2 linked regions of the Homo sapiens genome follow. The protein of the gene in region 1 purifies or fractionates together with the protein of each later gene. This does not show direct contact. Each region holds a gene or a part of one and is shown on either strand. Other genes may lie near its edges. The genes, in order: C9orf85 and PRTFDC1.

Evidence for each region.
Region 2: the proteins of C9orf85 (region 1) and PRTFDC1 purify together in Homo sapiens (affinity purification with mass spectrometry; one large-scale study listed by BioGRID and IntAct). This does not show direct contact.

What each region holds. Positions count from the first base shown.
Region 1 is NC_000009.12:71,942,474-71,946,295, reverse strand, and holds part of C9orf85 (uncharacterized protein C9orf85), read right to left. Parts: intron 1-3,822.
Region 2 is NC_000010.11:24,935,442-24,939,263, forward strand, and holds part of PRTFDC1 (phosphoribosyltransferase domain-containing protein 1), read right to left. Parts: intron 1,927-3,822; coding exon 1,743-1,926; intron 1-1,742. UniProt on the Homo sapiens protein: Has low, barely detectable phosphoribosyltransferase activity (in vitro). Binds GMP, IMP and alpha-D-5-phosphoribosyl 1-pyrophosphate (PRPP). Is not expected to contribute to purine metabolism or GMP salvage.

The sequences.
Region 1 (3,822 bases):
TGTCCTGAATTGTCAGTTTGTTGAAGAGAACAGAGACTGAAATTTGAGGAAGGGGTGCCAGGGAGAAGCAGCTGGAAGCAAAAAGGCATTTCATTTTTCAGTTTTATGCTTTTGAATTCTCATGTTAAAAAAGTTTTAGAAAAGTTCCCCCTACTAACTTGGTTTCTTCAAACTTAAATAATATGTATTTGTATGTAAATATCTGTAGTGGAGAAAGGGCTTTATAAGGAAAAGTTTTTTATTGTAATTTTCTTTTCAAAATGTGTTGGGAAAGAAGGAAGATAGGAAAAATTTAAATGTGTCATGTATTTTCTCTAATAGTTTTATATTTTTGTAACATACTCATTTGATTCAGGACACAGACTATATATTTTCACTGAGTACTCTGAGAATTCTCTAGTTTGCTTTGGCTGTGAAAGCTTGGTCTTTGCCTATTGTTGGAATAATGAGCAGAAGACATTTAAAATTTTCTTTGCTTCTTTTGTTTTCTTTTAAAATTTCTCAAGGGGAGAAAGAAATGCACCACAAGTATGCAGATTCTTTGGGAGGCTATTAGATATTAAGTTAAAAGCACAATGTTTACATCAGATCATCTGAAAGAAACAATTTTTGAACAGCGCTTGATATTCTTGAAAGTTCTAAACAAAAAGATAAAATATTTGATAAAACATTTATTCAATGAGAAAATATTTTAGAAATATTGTGAAAAACCATAAATTAAGCTGTGAATATATTTCATTTTATTTAATTTTTCTCTTTCTTCAAGGAATCTTCACCATCAGGAAGTGTGAATATATTATGTTTAACTTTGTGATGAGAAATACATTCTGTTACTTACAAATTGTGTATGGGTGCATTCCTTCCTTCTGGACATAGATGGAGAGTCCCAGTTCTGCATGCTACTATATCCCCTGCTTACTCTAGGCCCCTAACTGTTGCCAGAAAGAAGGAAATCTGTGCCTACACACCAAACTCTTCGTCCTCTCAACCTTTGTACTTATTAATAGTTATCATGGACAAAGCTAGCTAAGAAATGCAGAAGCAAAGTTCACATTCATCATTTGTCTTCTCTGTCGTCTAGAACATCTTACTAAGCATTACTTATATTTCCTTAACTGAATGACTTTGAACTATGACTTCAATATGAATGTGATATTAACTTCCTAATTGGAACATTCTTAGAACACAGACATTTCACTACCTGCAATTTTATTGTATATAACACATTCTGCTTGTTAACTAGGAAGCATTCTTTGGTTCCTTGTTTGTTTCTGTATCCAATTTCTGACCAGTTCATCTTGATTTACAAAGCTGTGCAGAGTTTGGAAACTGGTTTCTTTAGGGTGGATCAACAGTAGAACAAAACAGGTCTTTGTGGGAACTTGTCCTGTGAGTGATGTGTGAAGCAGTATAAATAGATATGTTGTACAGGGTTCATATGACTAACAGGCACTACTATCAAATTAAACTTGATTTTTATGTGTTAAGAAATTAATGAGAGTAAGAATGAGAAAGAATAGTACTTTTCACTTAAAAATAGGTGCAGAAGAAAGAAAAGTATATACCTGTTTTACCATTCTTTGGCAAAACAGAAGTGAATTCCAGAGATGTGAGCAAAGAAAGTTAATCCTAGTTCTAGGAATCCTTCTGCCTGGGGGGAAGGAAATGACAATCTAACCTTATTCACATTTATATTTACAATTAACCCTATTTTGGCAATTACTTTTAGTGTATCCCTCATGGTAGAAGATCATAGGTAATTAAGGTTAAAACTTAAGTCTGTCCAAATATAAAATCAAAAGTTTTATAAATACAAAAGCCTATAAAGGTCATTTAGTTCGTTCAACAAGCTACTTTCCAGATTTGTGAAGAAAAAAAAAATCTTCAGTGGAAGAGTCCACTGAACTTAGGAATCAGTGAAAGAAGAAACCCTTACTTATCAAATGAATACTTTTCAAAGTTAGAATAAACTTAAGGAACATCAAAAAACATGCCTACTTAATATATACATAACGTCTTAAAAATGTCTTAGCCATCATTCCTACAACTTTTTTTTTTTTTTGAGACAGAGTCTCACTCTGTTGCCCAGACTGGTGTGCAGTGGGGCAATCTTAGCTCACTGCAACCTCTGCCTCCTGGGTTCATGCAATCCTCCTGTCTCGGCCTCCTGAGCAGCTGGGATTACAGGCGTGCACCAGCATGCCAGCTAATTTTTGTATTTTTAGTAGAGATGGGGTTTCGCCATTTGGCCAGGCTGGTCTCGAACTCCTGGCCTCAAGTGATCCACTTGCCTTGGCCTCCCAAAGTGCTGGGATTATAGGCGTGAGCCACCGCACCCGGCCTATACAACATATATTTTAGAGTCAGTGTTGTTATTGCTGCTTTAAGCATTCTATTTGTTGTCAAACAATATATCTTTAACACAGTAATGCCATACAGAAGTTGGGTGAGAAAGGGCCGGGTGCGGTGGCTCACACCTGTAATCCCAGCACTTTGGGAGGCCGAGGCAGGCAGATCACCTGAGATTGGGAGTTCAAGAACAGCCTGACCAACATGGAGAAACCCCGTCTCTACTAAAAGTACAAAATTAGCCGGGGTGCTGGCGCATGCCTGTAATCCTAGCTACGCTGGAGGCTGAGGCAGGAGAATCCTTTGAACCTGGCATTTGGAGGTTGCAGTGAGCTGAGATCGTGCCATTGCACTCCAGCCTGGGCAACAAGAGCGAAACTCCTTCTCAAAAAAAAAACAAAAAACAAAAAAAAGAAGCTGGGCGAGAAAGGACTTCAACTCCCAAGAAGGTAGCAAGAGCAAATTGTAAATATTATATCTGTATCAACATGCTGATGCTGAAAAATATTTTATAAAGTATCATTTAACAGAAGGAAGATACTACGGTAGTTGAAAAGAAATTTGAATACCATTCAAAAGCAACTAAAATAATTTTTCCTTAGGTTTTTTTTGTACATAATTCTTTCAGAATTGCCAAAGGTAAAACAAAGGCCTGTTTACTCCTCTTAACTGAAAACAAAAAACAAACAAAAACAGAATTAAAAAAATGAAATTCTCAAAGAAAAATGCCAATGCCAATTCCAATGCTAAAAATCTATTTCCATAAACTGGCTTTGTTCTTTTCCCTGCAGTACTCTTCTCCTAAAATAAGGTATTTTATGCCACTACTGCTGTAACAATGTTACTCCAGAAATAGAAACTTTTATATCTTATTTAATCATATTTAAAAGTAGGTACTTTGAAATTTGCTGGAAAGAGTCCCTTATTCTAAATTTGGCTAGAGGATAAAAGATCCCTGGATTTGGGGGCAAGAACTCACGTGACTAATAACAATAATGTGAAAATCTGACTTTTAGGCTGCTGCTTCCTTTTTTTTTTTTTTTTGAGTCGGAGTCTCACTCTGTTGCCCAGGCTGGAGTGCAGTGGCATGATCTTGGCTCACTGCAACCTCTGTCTCCCAGGTTCAAGTGATTCTCCTACCTCAGGCTCCTGAGTAGCTAGGATTACAGGCACACGCCACCATGCCTAACTAATTTTTGTATTTTTAGTAGAGACAGGGTTTTGCCATGTTGGCTAGGCTGGTCTCGAACTCCTGACCTCAAGTGATCCGCCCACCTTGGCCTCCCAAGGTGCTTGGATTACAGGTGTGAGCCACAGCACCTGGCTTTAGCCTGTGAGTTTCAAATCATAAACTACATTATTTAAATTCCTTTAAATATGGCTAGAACATTGTTGGACATAAAGTATCTTACAAAACACAACCAAAAAATAGAGGAGGGAATCAGAATGAGAGAAAAGTAAGGGCAGGAGGGA
Region 2 (3,822 bases), on another chromosome or scaffold:
GGTGATCAGGAAAACACAGAGTATCTTAAGAAATCAGAACTAATTTCCAGCTGCTCTAGAACTGAGGCAACTGAGAGTCACATGAGGAATGTGGAAGACAGATTGGTGGCCCTGAAGACCGCTGTCCCCTGGTGTACACACCCTGCATAATCCTCTCCACTTGAGTGTGGGTAAGACTTGTAAACGTGGTGGGAATTCGCACCAAAGATTAGGTGACTAGTCAGATGACTTTGAGTTCATCAAAAGGCAGGTTACCTGGGTGAACATGATCTAATCAGGTGAGCTATAAAAGAAGGGCTAAGATTATTCCGTCAGACTTGAAGAAGCAAACAGCTAATGGTGTTGTGAACGACCTGTGGGGTAATTGATGCAAACACCTGGGGACAACCCCTAGGAGTGGAGAGTCTACCAACTCCAGCCTACAGTCAACAAGGAAATGGGAACTGAGCTTGCCAACAGTCAGTGATCTTGAAAACCTCAGATGATATCAAAATCCCAACTAACACACTGATTTCATCCCTGTAAGGTTCTGAGCTGAAAACTCAGCTACACCATGCTCAGATTTCTGACCTACAGAAACTTTAAGATAATACACGTGTATGTTGGTTTAAGCCACTACGTTTGTGGTGAGTTTGCCACACAGCAATAGAAGGCCAATTCAAAGAGTGATTCATGAATTAAAATGTGTCAAGTTAGTTTAGTCAACGAGAATATTTTCATGGTTTGACTCCAAGAGCTCCTCACCCAATAGTAAGTTATTTTTAATGTTTTACTATGCATTAAATCAAAAAGCATCAAAGAAGTTAACATCATAGAGGGAGGAGGAGGGAGACTAAGGAAACAACAGCTTTTTTTTTTTGGCAAGAGTTTCATTGTCATCCAGGCTGGAGTGCAGTGGTGCCATACAGCTCACTGCAGCCTCTGTCTCCTGGGCTCAAACAATCCTCCCACTTCAGCCTCTTGAGTACCTGGGACCATAGGCACATGCCACCACACTCAGCTAATTTTAAAAATTTTCTTTTTGTATATAGACAGGGACTCACTATGTTGCCCAGGCTGGTCTCGAACTCCTGGCTTCAGGGGATCCTTCTGTCTTGGCCTCCCAAAGTGTTGGGATTATATGCATGAGCCACTGCATCTGGTTAGGAAACATCTTTGGAGAATAATTCCATTAATTCTGCCCAGTGGTGCCCACAGAAAGACAGAATTAATGGAGTAAACTGGTGGAGGGGCCTTCTGCTGGAGCTCCCTGGCCTTGTTTCCTCACACTTGGCAATGTGCTGTCCCTATAGCCTTCCCTTCTTTACTTCCAGGCCACAACTGCAGCCACCCAAGTACTAAGACTCCTCTCTGGGCTGGACACCCTCCCATAGGTCCCCAGGACCCATAGTGACATCCAGAGTAGAAAAAACAAATCAGTGTTCACACTCTGACCACACACAGTTGTGGGGCTGGGCACCAGGATATAACCACTCACTTTATCACCATAAAAGAAAGCACAAATCATTACTGCTGAGTCTTCCCATATATGTGAAAATAGAGAGAAGGTCCCCACCCCACGCCCTAAATAGTATCATTTGAATTCTTATGTTAGGTTGCCGTATTCTTGCAAATTAAAATTACCCTTCATTTTCATCTCCATTTTTAAAAATTGCACTCTTCATTTTCATAACATTATTGATTCTTTTATCCTAAAGCATTGTTAAATGAAATGTCATAAAGCGGAACTTGTAATAACTTACCCTGTAACTTTTTAGTCTGATGAAATCAACCTTCATTGAGACAAATCGATCTGAATTTCGGCTGATGTTCTTAAGGTGTTCTACGAGATCAGCACAGAATTTGTAACCTCCTTTAAGCACACACAGGACCATGATGTCACTATATCCTATGTCTTTCATAATATCCTTGGCCAGCCGCTCAATTCTGAAAGAAGGATAAAAGATATATTAAGGCACAACTACTTCTGAGTATTTATGTTGCTTTAATGAAATGCAAGATGTATTGTACGTATTCGATTACTCAGAGGAATGTGGGGAAAACCTTGGGAAACAGAAACCCACCGATAGAAAAGCTTTGTTAAGGTTGAACATAAGGTGTTCAAAACATACTGCTTTTTTTTTTTTTTTTTTTTAAGATGGAGTCTCACTCTGTTGCCCAGGCTGCAGTGCAGTGGCACGATCTTGGCTCACTGCAACCTCCACCTCCTGGGTTCAAGTGATTCTCCTGCCTCAGCCTCCCAAGTAGCTGGGAATACAGGCGCCTGCCACTATGCTCAGCTAATTTTTGTATTTTTAGTAGAGACGAGGTTTTGCCATGTTGGCCAGGCTGGTCTCGAACTCCTGACTTCAGGTGACCTGGCCACCTTGGCTTCCCAAAGTGCTGGGATTACAGGCATGAGCCACCATGCCTGGCAGTATTTACTGAATTCTAAAGAAGACACACGATCATAAAAAATGTACATCAGAATATCTGGCATGCTCCTTAAAAAGGAACATTTGGGCCAAGAGTGGTGTCTCACACCTGTAATCCCAGCACTTTAAGAAATCCAAGATGGGCAGATCACTTAAGGTCAGGAGTTTGAGACCAGCCTGGCCAACGTGGTGAAACCCCGTCTCTACTAAAAATACAAAAATTAGCCGGGCATGGTGGCGGGTGCCTGTAATCCCAGCTACTCGGGAAGCTGAGGCAGGAGAATCCCTTGAACCAAGGAGGCAGAGGTTGCAATGATCTGAGATTGCACCACTGTACTACTCCAGCCTGCGCGACAGAGCAAGGCTCCTTCTCAAAAAAAAAAAAAGAACATTTGTTTCCAACATGATGAAGTAAGGAGGTGAACACATCCTCTCCAGAAAAGCAACTATAAAACTGGGCAAAACTGCCAAAAACAACCATCTCATCATGTTGGAAATCAACCAAAGGCATACAACAAACTGAGAAGCATTTAATTCTGAAAACCCTGAACACTGGGTGGAAACAGCATGAGTCTGGGGCATTCTTGTGTGGGGATGCTCTTATTACCCCCCAGCCCCTATCCCCAGCTCTGTTGTTCAAACAGGCAGTTCCACCAAGGTGGTGCACTGCCAGAGGGAGCTCACCTGATAGGGAACACTGTAAGCTAAAATGGTCACCTTGGTGGCAGGGCTCCACTATCCTGAGGTGCAGTCACCGCTGAGCAGTGCACTGGCAGGCTGGCTGGGGATTTGATAGGAAGTTCCAGGGAGGAGGTTAGACAGTCATAGAACAGGGGCACACAATAAGTTCTTCATGCATCTCAATTGACCAGAGGCTGTACATATGCACAGCAGAGTGAGTTCAAGCCACCCACACATCCCTGGACAGTGAAGGCTGTGTACATGTGCAGAGAAGGCACAAGAAAGCTCAGGGGAAAGTAAACATCGAAAGATTTGAAAATGGTTGGAAATTTGAATCTACTTTCAAGTCCCCACACACCCCCATCAGCAGAGAGTGGAAGACTTACTGGCTTGACGTATTTGAGCACAACTTCTAACCAATTGTAGGCCAAACACTAAGCTATTCAAACACAGGGTGATCCCTAGTAAGTGAGGCTTAAAAATAAAAACAAGAGAAAAATAAACCTCACAGACATCAGAAGTCACACAGTGAGGTGGGCAGATCTCTTGAGGTCAGGAGTTCAAGATCAGCCTGGCCAACACGGTGAAACCCAATCTCTACTAAAAATACAAAAATTAGCCGGGCTTGGTGGTCTGCGCCTGTAATCCCAGCTACTCAGGAAGCTGAGGCAGGAGAATCACTTGAACCCAGGAGGCGGAGGTTGCAGTAAGCCCAGACTGTGCTATT